Linked DNA regions of Homo sapiens. The protein of the gene in region 3 purifies or fractionates together with the protein of the main gene of each other region. This does not show direct contact. Each region holds a gene or a part of one and is shown on either strand. Other genes may lie near its edges.

The links. The genes of interacting proteins can lie anywhere in the genome.
Region 1: the proteins of FILIP1 (region 3) and MOB4 purify together in Homo sapiens (affinity purification with mass spectrometry; one large-scale study listed by BioGRID and IntAct). This does not show direct contact.
Region 2: the proteins of FILIP1 (region 3) and STRN purify together in Homo sapiens (affinity purification with mass spectrometry; one large-scale study listed by BioGRID and IntAct). This does not show direct contact.
Region 4: the proteins of FILIP1 (region 3) and STRIP2 purify together in Homo sapiens (affinity purification with mass spectrometry; one large-scale study listed by BioGRID and IntAct). This does not show direct contact.

The regions. Positions count from the first base shown.
Region 1 is NC_000002.12:197,518,690-197,522,865, reverse strand, and holds part of MOB4 (MOB-like protein phocein), read right to left. Parts: intron 1-4,176.
Region 2 is NC_000002.12:36,854,737-36,858,912, reverse strand, and holds part of STRN (striatin), read left to right. Parts: intron 1-889; coding exon 890-1,057; intron 1,058-3,560; coding exon 3,561-3,701; intron 3,702-4,176. UniProt on the Homo sapiens protein: Calmodulin-binding scaffolding protein which is the center of the striatin-interacting phosphatase and kinase (STRIPAK) complexes.
Region 3 is NC_000006.12:75,483,801-75,487,300, forward strand, and holds part of FILIP1 (filamin-A-interacting protein 1), read right to left. Parts: intron 1-3,500. UniProt on the Homo sapiens protein: By acting through a filamin-A/F-actin axis, it controls the start of neocortical cell migration from the ventricular zone. May be able to induce the degradation of filamin-A.
Region 4 is NC_000007.14:129,482,556-129,486,731, reverse strand, and holds part of STRIP2 (striatin-interacting protein 2), read right to left. Parts: intron 3,891-4,176; coding exon 3,686-3,890; coding exon of another isoform or gene 3,663-3,685; exon of another isoform or gene 3,101-3,662; intron 1,154-3,100; coding exon 903-1,153; 3' UTR 1-902. UniProt on the Homo sapiens protein: Plays a role in the regulation of cell morphology and cytoskeletal organization. Required in the control of cell shape. Calmodulin-binding scaffolding protein which is the center of the striatin-interacting phosphatase and kinase (STRIPAK) complexes.

The sequences.
Region 1 (4,176 bases), on a different chromosome or scaffold from region 3:
TTTTTGTATTTTTTGTAGAGACAGGGTTTCACCATGTTGGCCAGGATGGTCTCAATCTCTTGATCTCGTGATCCGCCTACTTCAGACTCCCAAAGTGCTGGGATTACAGGCGTGAGCCACCATGATCGACCCATAAGTATTATTTTAAAAAGAAATTATAAATTATTATTCTCATTCCAAATAGAGTTTTGAATTTCTAAATCAAAATATGGGCACCATTAAAAAGTAATCATCAGACTGGGCATGGTGGCTTACACCAGTAACCCTACCACTTTGGGAGGCCGAGGCGGAAGGATCACTTGAGGTCAGGAGTTCGAGACCAGCCTGGCCAACATGATGAAACCCCGTCTCTACTAAAAATACAAAAAATAGCCGGGCATGGTGGCGTGCGCCTGTAATCCCAGCTACTCAGGAGGCTGAGGCAGGAGAATTGCTTGAACCCAGGAGGCGGAAGCTGTGGTGACTCAAGATCACGCCACTGCACTCCAGCCTGGGTGACAGAGCAAGACTCCATCTCAAAAAAAAAAAAAAAAAAAAAAAAAGGTAATCACCCATGGGTACAAAAAAAATAGAAAGAATGAATAAGACCTAGTATTTGCTAGCACAATAGGGTGACTATAGTAAAAACCAATTTAATTGTACATTTAAAAAAAACTAAAAGAATCTAATTTTTTGCAACATAAAGGACAAATGTGTTGCAGGAAGTCAGGGACCCCAAACTGAGGGACCGGCTGAAACCACGGCAGAAGAATGTGGATTGTGAAGATTTCATGGACATTTATTAGTTCTCCAAATTAATACTTTTATAATTTCCTATGCCTGTCTTTACTGCAGTCTCTAAACACAAATTGTGAAGATTTCATGGACACTTATCACTTCCCCAATCAATACCTTGTGATTTCCTAGGCCTGTCTTTAATCTCTTAATCCTGTCAGCTGAGGAGGAGGTATGTCACCTCAGGACCCTGTGATAATTGTGTTAACTGCACAAACTGTAGAGCATGTGTGTTTGAACAATATGAAATCTGGGCACCTTGGAAAAAGAACAGGATAACAGCAATTGTTCAGGGAATAAGAGAGATAACCTTAAACTCTGACCACTGGTGAGCCGGGCGGAACAGAGCCATATTTCTCTTCTTTCAAAAGCAAATGGGAGAAATATCGCTGAATTCTTTTTCTCAGCAAGGAACATCCCTGGGAAAGAGAATACACGCCTGGGGGTGGGTCTATAGACGGCCCCCTTGGGTATGGCCGTCTTCTATGGTCGAAACTGTAGGGGTGAAATAAACCCCAGTCTCCCATAGTGCTCCCAGGCTTATTAGGAAGAGGAAATTCCCACCTAATAAATTTTGGTCAGACCGGTTGCTCTCAAAACCCTGTCTCCTGATAAGATGTTATCAATGACAATGGTGCCCGAAACTTCATTAGCAATTTTAATTTTGCTCTGGTCCTGTGGTCCTGTGATCTCGCCCTGCCTCCATTTCCCTTGTGATATTCTATTACCTTGTGAAGTACGTGATCTTTGTGACCCACACCCTATTTGTACACTCCCTCCCCTTTTGAAAGTCCCTAATAAAAACTTGCCGGTTTTGCAGCTTGTGGGGCATCACGGTACCCACCGACATGTGATGTCTCCCCCGGACGCCCAACTTTAAAATTTCTCTCTTTTGTACTCTGTCCCTTCATTTCTCAAACTGGCTGATGCTTAGGGAAAATAGAAAAGAACCTACGTGACTATCGGGGCAGGTTCCCCGATACAAATGTTTATGGTGATGGATACCCCATTTACCCCCCTGATGTGATTATTATACACTGCATGCTTGTATCAAAATATCTCATGTAACCTACAAATATATACACCTACTATATACCCACAAAAATTTTAAAAAGAGAAGGAAACATCAAATAAACCAGCTTTCTGTTAAAGGGAATATTTTTATTTCTTCTTCTTTTTTTTTTTTTTTTTTTTTTTTAAGAGACGAGGTCTCACTTTGTTGGCCAGGTTGGTCTCAAACTCCTGGTCACAAACAATCCTCCAGCCTCAGCCTCCCAAAGTGCTGGCATTACAAGCATGAGCCACCATGCCCAGCTTAAGGGGGATATTTTTATAGAGCATCTTGCCCTGGTTCTGGAATTCTCTGTAGATAATACAGTTAACAGATATTCCCCTAAGTGATTAAGAACCTTTCCATTTGACTGATTTTTCAGAAAAGTTTACCTATGTAACCTCAGTGGGTAGCACAATGCCTGACACATCTTTGAAGCTCAAATGTCTCTGAGGTAAAACTTGGTGGGGAGGAGGTAAGAGTAAACCAATAATCTATAAACCTGTATATAAACCTGTAAAAACAATCAACAAAGATTAAGTCTTCAAAACCTTGAGCAAAAAAAGCAAATTAGAAGTAAACACAGTGTATATAAAATGAATAAAGTTTAGGCCGGGCGCGGTGGCTCACGCTCAGCACTTTGGGAGGCCGAGGCAGGCGGATCATGAGGTCAGCAGATCGAGACCATCCTGGCTAACACGGTGAAACCCCATCTCTATGAAAAAATACAAAAAATTAGCCAGGCGTGGTGGTGGGCGCAAACCCAGGAAGCGGAGTTTGCAGTGAGCCGAGAGTGCAGCACTGCACTCCAGCCTGGGAGACAGAGCGAGATTCTGTCTCAAAAAAAAAAAAAAAAGTTTAAGTGCAAGGCATACTTATGGATATAATGCATATATAGTAAAAGTATACAGAAAAGAAAAGGAATGATAGGGTAGAAGACAGAGAATGTCTTCCATAAGGATTCAACTATAGTAGCAATGTCCCCGTTTGGACAGTAGGTAATGAGTACACCTTTTTAAGTGTCTTAAACATTTCATCTTTTTTGAAATAGCTGGCCTATCTGGATGAAAATGAACTAATTTTATTAAAGGAAAATATCAAGAAATAAAACAATCTTCTAGAAATGGTTCCAGGATTCCTTTTCTTAGACATTATCTATTAAAGAGCAATTCTAAAATTTTTCCTATATGATCTAAAGTTTCTACCAATACTCTGTCTATTCTTTCCTTTTTAAAAAAACTAAGGAAGTTTACAGAATGTTGTTTTTAAAATATTAGAAAACACATGTACAGTTGGCCCTCCATATCTGCAGGTTTAATCTGCAGATTCAATCAACCAGGAATTGAAAATATTCATTTCAGGGGAGAAAAAAAATACAGAAAATGTTATATTGTTGCTGACATGTACTATGTACCTAGTTAGGTCTAAGATAGTTGCGTATGTACTAAACATGTACCGGCTTTCTTTTTGGTCATTATTCCCTAAATACAGTATAACAACTATTTACAGAACACGCATTGCATTAGGTATTATTAAGTAATCTAGAGTTGATTTAAACTATATAACAGAATGTGCATAGGTTATATGCAAACACTATGCCATTTTACTTAAGAAACTTAAGCATCCTCAGATTTTGGTATGGGGTGGGGGTACGGAGTTATCCTGGAGCCAATCCCCAGAGGACACCAATGATGACTATATATAGAAAAGATGTTGAGAATGAAATGTTTCGCCTTCTCATAACTGTGACATATTTTAGATGCCTATGAGAGACACCAAAAATTCAGCTTAATAAAGATTCTCATCTAATTCAACCAACAAACATTTATTGAAAACCAACTATGAAGCCCAGCGTGGTGGCTTGCGCCTGTAATCCCAGCACTTTGGGAGGCTGAGGCGGGAAGATCACTTGAGGTCAGGAGTTCGAGACCAACCTGGCTAACACGCTGAAACCCCATCTCTACTAAAAATACAAAAAAAATTGGCTGGGCGCAGTGGCTCATGCCTGTAATCCCAGCACTTTCAGAGGCCGAGACGGGCGGATCACGAGATCAGGAGATCCAGACCATCCTGGCTAACACAGTGAAACCCCATCTCTACTAAAAATACAAAAAAAAATTAGTCAGACGTGGTGGTTAGCGCCTGTAGTCCCAGCTACTCGGGAGGCCGAGGCAGAAGAACAGCGTGAACCCGGGACGTGGAACTTGCAGTGAGCCAAGATCGTGCCACTGCACTCCAGGCTGGGCGACAGAGTGAGACTCTTGTCTCAAAAAATAAAATAAAATAAATAAAAATAAAAATAAAAATAAAATTAGCCGGGCGTGGTGGCAGGCACCTGCAATCCCAGCTAC
Region 2 (4,176 bases), on a different chromosome or scaffold from region 3:
CATTCCAGTTACTCTCTGCTAACTGATGTCTGTCACAATTATTGTACTTTCAACATTGTCTGTTGAGGACTGGGATAGAATTGGGTATTAATCATGTATTTGGCTCCATCATTGAGCATAGTGCCTGACACACAGTGTGTCTTCAATATTTTATGGTATGTGTGACAGAGGATATAAGACATAACACCATTGACATTTCCAGACTTAACATTTGTGAGTCATCTTGAAAGTACCACTTCATAGAATCATTGTGAAGATTAATAAGGTTTCCAATTTGACTTTTATCATGAGACTGTGCTTAACCTCCCCACTTCCCTCCCTCTTCCCCTGCATACACTATCACTGCATCTCAGTTACTGCTGTTTGAGAATTTGGGGATTCCTGTAGATGTCACTTCCTGTCCATTATGAATGCCATATTTTCAGGAAAAACTGCCATCCATCATATAGTAAGATAAGTGAACAGAAGGAAGTATAGCCAAAGTGCTAAGGGACTTCAGAGAGGGAGAGGACCTCTCTGTTCACTTCCTCAGGGAGTGTGAGTTGTGGTTTCTCCAAAGATGAATTAAATTCAAATGATTTCGTATCAACGTGCTTTAAAAATATTTAGACAAATGGAAGGACAAAAGGAAGGGGGAGGAAATACTCAGTTTTTTTAAGGGGGAAAAATACGTGCTTTTAAATTTTAATTTAAAATTTTTTAACTTTATATTTGTATATTTCCAAGCTTGTTTTGATTTACTGTAGCCTGTCAGAAGAATAATAGAAACCAAGAATCATATTTTATACTGTTATCAGGTGCTATTGTTTATATATTTTACTTTCTCTGAAATCTAAGTACCTTTGTGGTTGTTTTTCTCCTGATTTTGCATTTTTACTGTTTTGTATAGATCCTTCTGTTTTACGAGGCCCTCTGCTAGGCCACACGGATGCAGTCTGGGGTTTGGCTTATAGTGCAGCACATCAGCGTTTGTTGTCCTGTTCAGCAGATGGCACTCTGCGTTTATGGAATACAACTGAGGTTGCTCCAGCACTAAGTGTATTTAATGATACTAAAGGTACATACTTTAAAAAATTATTTTGCTGAATCCTCTATAAAACAGTTTATTCTGAAAATAAGCAAGCAGATAAATGATTCCCTGAACTCTTTAAATTTAATTTGAAAGTTTTTGAAGCCACGAAAGTGTATTTGTTTGAATTTCCAACCTATATATAATTTTGTTTTGTTTTGTTTTGTTTTGTTTTGTTTTTTTTGAGACGGAGTATCACTCTGTTGCCCAGGCTGGAGTGCAGTGGCGCAATCTCGGCTCACTGCAACCTCCATCTCCCAGTTTCAAGCAATTCTCCTGCCTCAGCCTCCAGCACACACCACCACGCTCAGCTAATTTTTGTAGTTTTTTTAGTAGAGACAGGGTTTTGCTGTGTTGGCCAGGCTGGTCTGGAACTCCTGACCTCAAGTGATTCGCCTGCCTCAGCCTCCCGAAGTGCTGGGATTACAGGCATGAGCCACTGCACCCAGCCTATAATTTTTGAAAGCATAGTTTTTGGTGAAAGAACACACAGATTTTAGATTTTAAAAAATTAAGATATAATTTGTATGTAGTGAAAAACAGATATTAAGGATACATTTCAGTGAGTCTGATAGATGAGTACACCCATGTAACTCATACATCAATCAAGACATAGAATCCAGGTGTGGTGGCTCACACCTGTAATCCTAGCACTTTGGGAGGCTGAGGCAGGAGGATCACGAGAGGCCAGGAATTTGGGACCAGCTGGGCAACATAGCGAGGCCCTGTCTCTACATTTTCTTTAAAAAAAAAAAAGACTATATTTGCCCATTCTCGTACCACTATAAAGAAATACCTGAGACTGGGTAATTTGTTTAAAAAAAAAAAAGGTTTAATTGGTTGACGGTTCTGTACAGGAAGCATAGCAACTTTTCTTTGGCTTCTGGGGAGGCCTCAAGCAATTTACAATCATGGTGGAAGTCAAAGGGACAGGAGGCATGTTTTACATGGCCGGAGCAGGAGGAAGAAGGGGGTGGGACCTATTTTTAAACAACCAAATCTTGTGAGAACTCTATCACGAGAATAGCACCAAAGGGGAAAATCCACCCCATGATCCAATCACCTCCCGCCAGGCCGTATCTCCAATATTGGGGATTATGTTTGACATGAGACTTGAGTGAGGACACAGATCCAAACCGTATGAGAGATAGAACATTTCCTTTATCTCCCCAAAGTTCCTTCGTGTCTTTCCAAGTCAGTCCCCTCCTTTCCTTATTCCCAGCCAGAGGTACCCACTGTTGTGATTTCTTTCATCATAGATTAGTTTTATCTACTCAAACGTCATGTAAATGGAATAGTAAAGTATGTGTTCTTTGTATCTTGCTTTTATTCTTCATTATAATGTTTTGGAAATTCATTTGTGTTATATCAATTATTTCTTTCATTTTTATTTGATAGTATTTCATTAAGCCATAATTTGTCTATTCATTTATATCTTGATGGATATTTGGGTTGTCTCTAGTTTTTTGCTATTTTGAACAAGGCTGCTATGAACATTCATATATTTTCATTATAGGTGTGTAGAGACTTAGAATTGCTGGGCTTTCAGGTGGATGTTTATTTTACTTTATGTGAAGTCACTAAAAATTTTTCAAAAAAATTTTGTAGTTGTACCATTTTACACCTTTGACAGCAGTGTATGAGCATTCCAGTTGCTCTGCATCCTTACAAACATACAGTATTGTCAGTCTGTTTAACTTTAGCCATTCTGGTGGATGTGTAGTAGTATTTCATCATAGTTTATTTGCATTTCTTTGATGGCTAATTTTGATGAGCATTTCTTTTGTTTGCTTATTGGTTATTTGTGTATCTTCTTCTGCAGTATGCACATTTTTGAACTGTTACCTTGCTGTAGTTAGATTTTGAGCCAAATGAAAAAAATCAGATTATTATATTCACTTTATATGTTTCCTTCTATTTTTATGTTTATAAATAAGCTCTAAGTTTTCATGTATTCTAGATGGTAAATAAAAATACCTTCTGTATTCTTGAGCTATTATAACTTCTTTCCAGGCTTTGATGAGTTGTCTTCATATGGTATTTGCATGACTCTAACGATAAATAATAATTTTAAATTTTACTTTTTAATTTCTCTATTTTTGATGAGCTAACATCCCTAATAAGAGATGGGTTTTTTAAAATGAAGAATTCCCACTATGTCACTCTAAGCTTGAGGTTGGGCGGAAGCAGCAAAATTTGTAATTCATACATGTTTTCCATTTGCTCTCTAAATAAAGGCTTGCATTCCATGAATATATCAGTTGAGTAACAGGTAGAAGATCTGCTAAGCAGGTAAGGGAAATAAATAGACTAGGGCTAAAAGTTACAAAGAAATAATCTCCAATGAATAGTTATGAGCTAATTCTTATTCTAATGGTAAGCCTTGTTTACTTCTTAAGGAAACCATGCCATTTTTTGTTTTGCTCTATTTTAAGCAGATTGTCAAGTAGATGGTTTAATTGCCATTCTATTTCAATATGTTCTCTTTCAGAACTGGGAATCCCTGCCTCTGTGGATCTAGTGAGCAGTGACCCGAGCCATATGGTAGCATCATTCAGCAAGGGATATACAAGCATTTTTAACATGGAAACACAACAACGCATTCTCACTTTAGAATCCAATGTAGATACAAGTATGCATACCAATTTTAAATTGTCTGTGTTTATTTTTTTAACTTAATCAAAATTACGACTACTAGAGTCAGCTGTGAAAAATATTTGTCATTATAAAGCTTTCTGTCTCTTAACTTTCAGAACACAGTTACTTAGAAGGTTGTAATTATTTACCTTTTAAGAATTTGGGTTAAGTTTATGTACATTTATAACTATACTGTTTGAAATAGCATTTGAGCTGTTATGGGTCAAGTTTTATTTTATACTAAATGATTAATTTTCAATTCTATTTGAAGAAAGCCATATTTATTCTGAATAGGAAATTCTATTTTTCATTTCTCGTAATTTCATATTTTAAATCAACTTAATTTTATATTAATAGTATGATTTGGTACAGCTCAATACAGATCATGTTGTGGCACTCAGAATTCCAAACCTGAAGCTTCTTATTGGATGCAGGAAGTCAGGAAATAAGTGCTTTTTCAGGTTATGAAG
Region 3 (3,500 bases):
AAGTGATTAAGAGCTTACACGCACAGGCTGGGGAGTCCAATTGCCTGGACTCATCCCAGACTTGCCACCTGCTTGCTGGGGGCTGGGGGGAGATGAACAATTCCCTCAGCCTCCTTATCTGTAAAATATATAGTATATGTGTATCTGCCTTATGAAACTGTTAGTGCCTAACATACAGAAAGCATTCATTAAATATTAGCTACTTTATTGTTTATTATGATTGTGTGATAGAAAAAAGTAATAGACTGGGGCTCAGGGGACTTAAGTTCTGGTCCTTGCTTTACTTCTTTTTCCACCTATGTGACTCTTGTACAGAACTGAGGTGCGGTCATAGAAAGGGACCCAGAAAGTAATCAAAAATCCTTAAGTCAAGATCTTAAAAGTAAGCCAGGCAACGATCCTGAGTGTCAGTTCTCTTGAGACAGGAACACAGCCACTGCAAGGTGTAGAAAGTACCCACTACCAAGGGTTGAATAATCACAGTTCCATACTCAATTCTACCTGCGGAAGGTTTTGTAACTTGAGCTGAGTGACTTCTCATTCTAGTACTATCTTCTTTAAAATGATGAGGTGGCACTCATCATTTGAAAGTACTGTCTTTTAAAGTACTTTTAAAGTACTGTCTTTTAAAGTACTTTTAAAGTACTGTCTTTTAAAGTACTTTTAAAGTACTGTCTTTAAAATGATTGCGATAACAGGTTCTCAATATTGGATGCGAATTAAAATCACACAAAAGCTTAGAAAATAGACCAATACTTGGGCACCCTCTCAGGCCAATTTAAATCAGAACCTCTGGGGGCATAGCCCAGGCATCTGCATTTTTAAAGCACCCCAGGTGACTTTGATGCACAGAGAGTGTTGAGAGCCACAGTACTAGATAATCAGATGGTTTCAAGTGAGGTCAGAGTCTAGAGGTTTCCACTCCTTTTGGTTTCCTGTAAGGTATAGCTGTCCCCAGGACCAAAGCCATGTAATCATTGACATTGTGGTACTCAAGGCCCTGTGCCTGCTCACAATCAGACTAGGGGCAGATGTGCAAAGAGAACTAGGAAATCTTACAGAAGTCTTAGATAATTCTTGAATGAATATGATAAGCTGTTAATATCTTAAAAATTAGCTAAAGACTAATGTGGAAATTATCGCTGTTGTGTACCAAAAGAAATTTAGAATAATTGAATGAGGAAAAAAATACTTCTAGAGGCCAACCAGTCAAACTCTTTGTCTCCAAAGAAGAGAACACAAATACTCTTTTTCTGGGTGGGTGAAAAAAAAATTACAGTTCTTTTTCTCCTTTGACACTATTACACCTTTTTACATAAAGACAGGAGAAGAAAAAAGGAAAACTGAGTTTATTGTAAAGAAATCAAGAGATGTTATGTCAAGAAAACAGACAGCCTTCGTGAAATGTAACACATCTCTGCCTTTACTTCTTTTTCATTGACTTGGATTAAACAGGTCTGTATCACACAGCAAACAGTATATTTGCTTCAGGAAGATGTTTAGCCTGTCAGGTGAGTAGCAGTACAAGTCCTGTGCTATTAACCAATAATGAATGTAGTGTGTTTGGGGATGGGGAGTTGGGGTGTGCTAGTATAGTTGTGACAAGTTACTGTTTCAATTTATTAGAATAGAATTTCTCAGAAAGTAGAGATTTATTCTGTTATATTCCATCCCATATAAAACATTCACCTTCCTGGGATATTCAATCCCACTACCTGGGATATGTGATACCCTGGAAAAGTAGTCTTTCTGGCCACTGGCATAAGAGAAAGCAAAGCATTATCTGCTCCATCGAAGTTTTATTAGAATCGCTCTCCTTTTACTTCAAACAATCTGAAAGTTAAATGCCAGAAATGCAAATAGAAACTCAAAAGTTTCAATTATTTCCAAATAGTCAGACATTTGGACATCATGCAGGCAAATAAAGATAAAAGAATTAAATAAAATATCCAATAAAATATGCCTCTGATCCATAGTAGCAAAATGGCTGAAAAGCGTCAGGCAATTTTTCTTAAACTACAGCAAGCTCTCTGTTTTATTTTATTTTTTTGAAGGAACATCATGCTGCCAGAATAGCAACTCACTACCAAAACAAAGTCATTTGGAACCAATAACAAGCCTTTATGTGGAGCACCTTCTACCGCCTTCCTCACTGCCTTCTGACCAAAACACACACACACACACACACACACACACATACACACACACACACACACACACTCCACCAAAGGTTTCTTGAAGAAGTATTGCTACCAACAACGGGGATAAGTATTTCATAGAACTCCCTCTTGAACCCACTTCACAAACTAAATGTTTATGACCAAGGTAGAGACTGGCAGCACATTCAAAGTTTACAATATAAGGTGGGGCTCTGAGTTGTCAATAGGAGCAACAGCAGACAAAAGCCCCAACAGTGTCAAAGGAGGTGGTACAAAATCAAATGCTCCATGGCATCCTCTTCTTGGGAATCAACCCAGCGTGTAGAAACCAAGAACCACATTGCCCCATCAACAACTGGAAGAATCACTTCTGCATCTCAGTGCCCCAGGCCTAGCTCATCCAGGGTGGCCCAACTCTACTGGCCATTGAAGCTTCTGATTCCACTTTGGGATCCTGGAAAAGAGCCTCTGTTAGCCTTCTGACCCTAAATCTCTTTATTCTTTGCACTTTGTGAATCTTTTAATACTATAGGGGCAGCTGTTACCTTGCAGTGTCACATTCTACATGTTTCAGTAAAACATCTCATAGTCATCTAGGTGGAGGTGTTCCATAAACAACTGCCTGAATTTTAAAAAGTGGTTGAAACTATCGAATAGATAAGGTCAAATTGCCTGGATTTGGATTTTAAATCTACTACTAGGTAAGTTATTTAACATTTATAACCTCATTTTCCTAATCTGTAAAATAGTGATAAAAATAGTACCTCATAGGGTTGTTACGAGAAGCAAATAAAATCATCCATGTAAAATGCTTGGCACAATTCCTGGCACATAGTAATATTCTCAAGTATATGCTAGTTATTCCTATCATTTTATATAGTAAATGTACTGCATATGTTGTATATTATATAGATAATATATATTACATGTAGCCATTATTATTATTATTACTTATGGAATGAGCAGAATGTAGAAGTTGGGGATGTCTTATCAAAAGTTGACGGGCCCTGAGAAGTGAACTCGACCAATGCAGCTGACTTCCTTAAAGACCAGAACGAACAACAGGCTATGGCCAAACCAGTTGGTTTGGTGTATTCAAACCAGAAGATGATATCTATCAACACAGCGAGTGAAAGTTAAGCTTATATGTAAGGCCACTCCCTGATCCAAATACCAGGCTGCTCTTCAAGCATGTGTCCCTTACTAAACAGTTAATGAAACACAAAGAGCTTTGAATACCTCCAGTGTCACATTTCAAGACTTATAGAATAATTAGGAAAAATCTGAGCTGGCAAAACTCTTCCTGGCTTGCCCTGATGAGCAGACCATCTTTGTTTTCCA
Region 4 (4,176 bases), on a different chromosome or scaffold from region 3:
ATTAGAAAAATATATTGATCACGACCACAAGTGGACATACCATCTGAATAAATAAAGCCTCCTGTAGTTAACTTGTCATTTAAAAAATGAATTAGATGAAAAGGATAATTTTCTGCAGTATGCTCAGCCATTTGAAGACTGGAGTCATTTAAGAAAAACATGAAACATCCTTAGAGAGGACCTAATTATTTCATATTGGTTGTGGCTCTTTAAAAATGGCAGAGCATTCCATGCCCTATACAGAGTACACAAGGAAATAATTTTCACATTGAATATAGATCTCTTACAGAATGAGGAAAAAAACACTTTACACAACACACTTTTCGATAACATGCAGTATTGAGGGAATAGTAAATCATCATCCTTCACAAAGAAGGTGCAGGTGCTCTAAAATAATCTTAGAGCTAATGATTTCAGAAAGAGGCTTCCAAATTTGAAATTTAAAATGCAAACTTAATTTCAAAGTTGGTTTTTCCAAATCTCTGATAAGTCCTAGGAATCCAGTGTGAGCAAGAAGAAAACTTTCTCCCTATTTTATGACTTGTACCTCCCACTATCTGTGATGAATGCCATGGGTCAAATGCCATAACAAATTTCCTCTTTTAGAGCCAGCAAAGTCTAGCCTGGTTGTAGCCAAGACTAAAGCAGGAAAAGGTCCTACCAAAGAGCTTGTCTAGAATTGATCCACCAAAAGATTTCCAAGGCCAACTGGGCACCCAACTGACCCCAGGGCAAGTTGATCATTTTATTGTGATTCAGGATCCCACCCTTGCACCATCTTTAGGCCCAAGAGCCCCCAGAAGAGCCCTGAACTGGTAACAGCGCCTGTATGGACAGGGTAGGCAGAGCACAGTTTATTGGAGCTGACCTCTATCTATTGATGCTTGTTGACAAGAACTTAGTCAGTGATTCTGGAGCAGCTCCTCCCAACAGATGGGCTGTGAAAACACCTCTCTCTCGAGCCAGAGCTCATATGAATAGTGGAAATCTTCAGGCAGATCCAACCTCTGCCCCAGTACGCTCTGCAAGCAGTTATCCACAGGTGAAAACTCAGAGTCCTGGGGTCTGTCATAGCGACGGCTGTTAAAAGCCTCAATGTTGGCCCTCAAGGTACATTCTTCTGCTTGGAAGTCCCATGGTCTGGCATCGATGTCTGTGTTGGAAAGAGAGGAAGAAGAAGACATACAATGCAAGACACTGCTCCTCTTATCACAGAGCATGGTCTATGGGATTCCAAAAATGGAACTGCTCAGAAATTCTTTTTTTTTTTTTTTTTGTAAAGAGCAATGTATGAAGTTAGTATACAGCATGCTGACACTTAGGTTTAAAAAATACACATATGCCCACATGCATAAGCTTGTATATGCAGAAATTATCTTTGGAAGGGTAGTCTAGAAACTGGTAATAGTGGTTACCTATGAGAAAGGAAATGAGGGCCCAGAGGGAGGTGGACTTCTTCTATTGTATTTCCTTTTTATTATTTCACTTTCTTATTAGCTTTATGTATTACTAGTTATATGTATTATGTTTCCCAAAAGGGTAATTAAATTCCTTTTATGCAGCTTTCCTTAGGGGATGAGTGTCCCATCTGAATGGAATAGCCAGCTTTCAAGGAATAGGAAGGGGCAAGAGGGGTATAACATGGAGAATCAGAATGGACCAATTACCGAAGATTTTCCTGATTCCCTGGAATCTCCTCCAGCACATGATAAATCTATATGTCAGCTTATTTTAAGATGATGAGGTGACGGCTTCAATGAAGGTAAAAACAGAAAACAGATAATCTGTTTCGCTTCTATTCACTTAGACACTTATTTCAGGGCTGAAGATACAAATCTCCCAGATCTCTCATGTTCTACATGCAAGGGTTTATCATAAGGAAGTGTAGTGTGAGTTTGGGCTCATAATGGCAGCAACAACAGATGTGCCATTTGCAGGATAAAACATTTTTGTGTTTTAAAAATTTACAAGAATTTAATAGATAATTGTGCTTTATGTCTTATAGCAGAAGTTGCATCCTGGCTTGTTATGTGCCTATCATATGTTTCCTTTAGTTCTCTAAACCCTTTTTTAGTGAAAAGACAGTCCCTCAGCACCACAAATTATGCAGTTGAGTTTCCCACATTTAGGGGAATAGCAGGGGTCAGCATATCTGGAGTAAAATGGATAAGACTTGTCCTGGGAAAACCATCTTCATGATCATGGTATTTTCCCTGCCAGGTAAGTAAGTAGAGTTATCTGAACTCTTTACTGCATCATCCTTTAAAATTCAAGCAGGTTACAAACACAGCAAAGACAAGTCATTACCAAAAATTCTCAAATACAATTATGGAAATAATGGTCAAATACAAAACAATAAAAAAGCTCTCCAAAATAAATTTTTCCAAACTCTGATCAATCTTACAAGTTCTGGTAGTTTAACCAAATATCTTGCCTTCTGATGTGAGGCAATGTACAGTTCCCAAGATTACCTAGGACATACTGCAGCCAAAAAGGTTTAAATTGAATTCATCAAACCTTTAGATTTAACTTCAAGTTTACAGGTAATACCATAGATAGACGAATAAAGTAGATAACACCACAAAGAAGAAAACAGACAAATCCAGAATGTGAGTATTTTGCAGGACAACTGGCCTAGTTCTTCAATTAGTTAGCATTAATGGTGGAGGTGGGGAGACTGCTTAGAGGCCAAGCACGGTGGCTTACACCTGTAATCCCAGCACTTTGGGAGGCCAGGGCAGGAGGATCCCTTGAGCCCAGGAGTTCAAGACCAGCCTGGGCAACACAGGGAGAGACTCCATCTCTACAAAAAAATTTGAAAAATTAGCCGGGTGTAGTGGTGGTATGCATCTGTAGTCCCAGCTACTTGGCAGCTGGGAGGATCACTTGAGCCCAGGAAGTCGAGGCTGCAGTGAGCCATTATCATGTCACTGCTTTCCAGCCTGGGTGACAGAGCGACCCTCTCAAAAAAACAAACAAACAAAAAACAGAAAACAAAAATAATTAACATATATATAACAACTGGATGCAACCTGTGGTCCTGGATTGGATTCTGACTTGGAAAAATAGCTATGAAGAACATTTTGGGACAACTCGAAAATTGTGAATATGAACTTTATTAGATGAAATGAAAATGTACTGACATGAAAAGGTAGAGATAATGTTAAAAGAGAAAATTACAAAATAGCATACATAACTTGCTTTCATTTTGATAAAATATGCATGTATATGCATAGAAAAAGATCTGGAGGAATATACAATAAGATGTTAATGGTGGCAATTTCTGCATAGTACAAATATGGCATAAATATAATATAGTAAAATGTTTGTTTACTTGTATTTTCTATCTTTTTTTCTAACTGCTTTGTAATAATAAAAAGTTGTTTTAATTTAAATCTTTTGGAGAAAGCTGTCATTTAAAAGAATGTTTTGGAAAGGCAATTAATTATCTCTCAATTTACTTGTTTTATAAAACGGATTTTCATAGTTTACATAGGACAAGGGTACATACTAGAATTTGAGGCATAACCTTAAAGTTTGGTGTATCAGCGCCTGACCTATAATCACATATTTTTTCATCTAAAATATGTAACAATTCATGCCAAAAGAGGAGTGATAAATATTTATTTAGTTTTGTCTAAACCCCAGGAAACTCCAGGAAGTCAAGAGCTTTGGGAAGACTCACCATTCCCGTAAGCCCAGTCATCGTTCATGCGGTGACGCACTTTCTGGTAAATGGCTGACATGGTTTTCATGTTGCTTTTCCTCCATTGGCGCCCCAGGTACTTGGTCTGTAACTTTAGTAGCTTTAGGACATAAAGTTGCAGCATGGCCTGTTTGACCTTGAGGGCCCGCTTTAAGATTGGTGCCGATTTAAACACTACCAGCATCTGTTCATTGAAAGAGGGGTGGGGTAAAGATCTAACGTTTCTTGGAATTTCCAGTTTACAGACAAATTAAACCAAACCTAGCTAGCCTCAGAAATTCCTGGGGAGCTTTCAGGAATCTATGGTCCAGGCTCTACTTAGATTTAATCTTCAAGAATATAGAGGGGGGCTGGGCAAGGTGGCTCATGTCTGTAATCCCAGCACTTTGGGAGGCCGAAGCCAGTGGATCACGTAAGGTCAGGAGTTTGAGACCACCCTGGCCAACATGATGAAACCCCATCTCTACTAA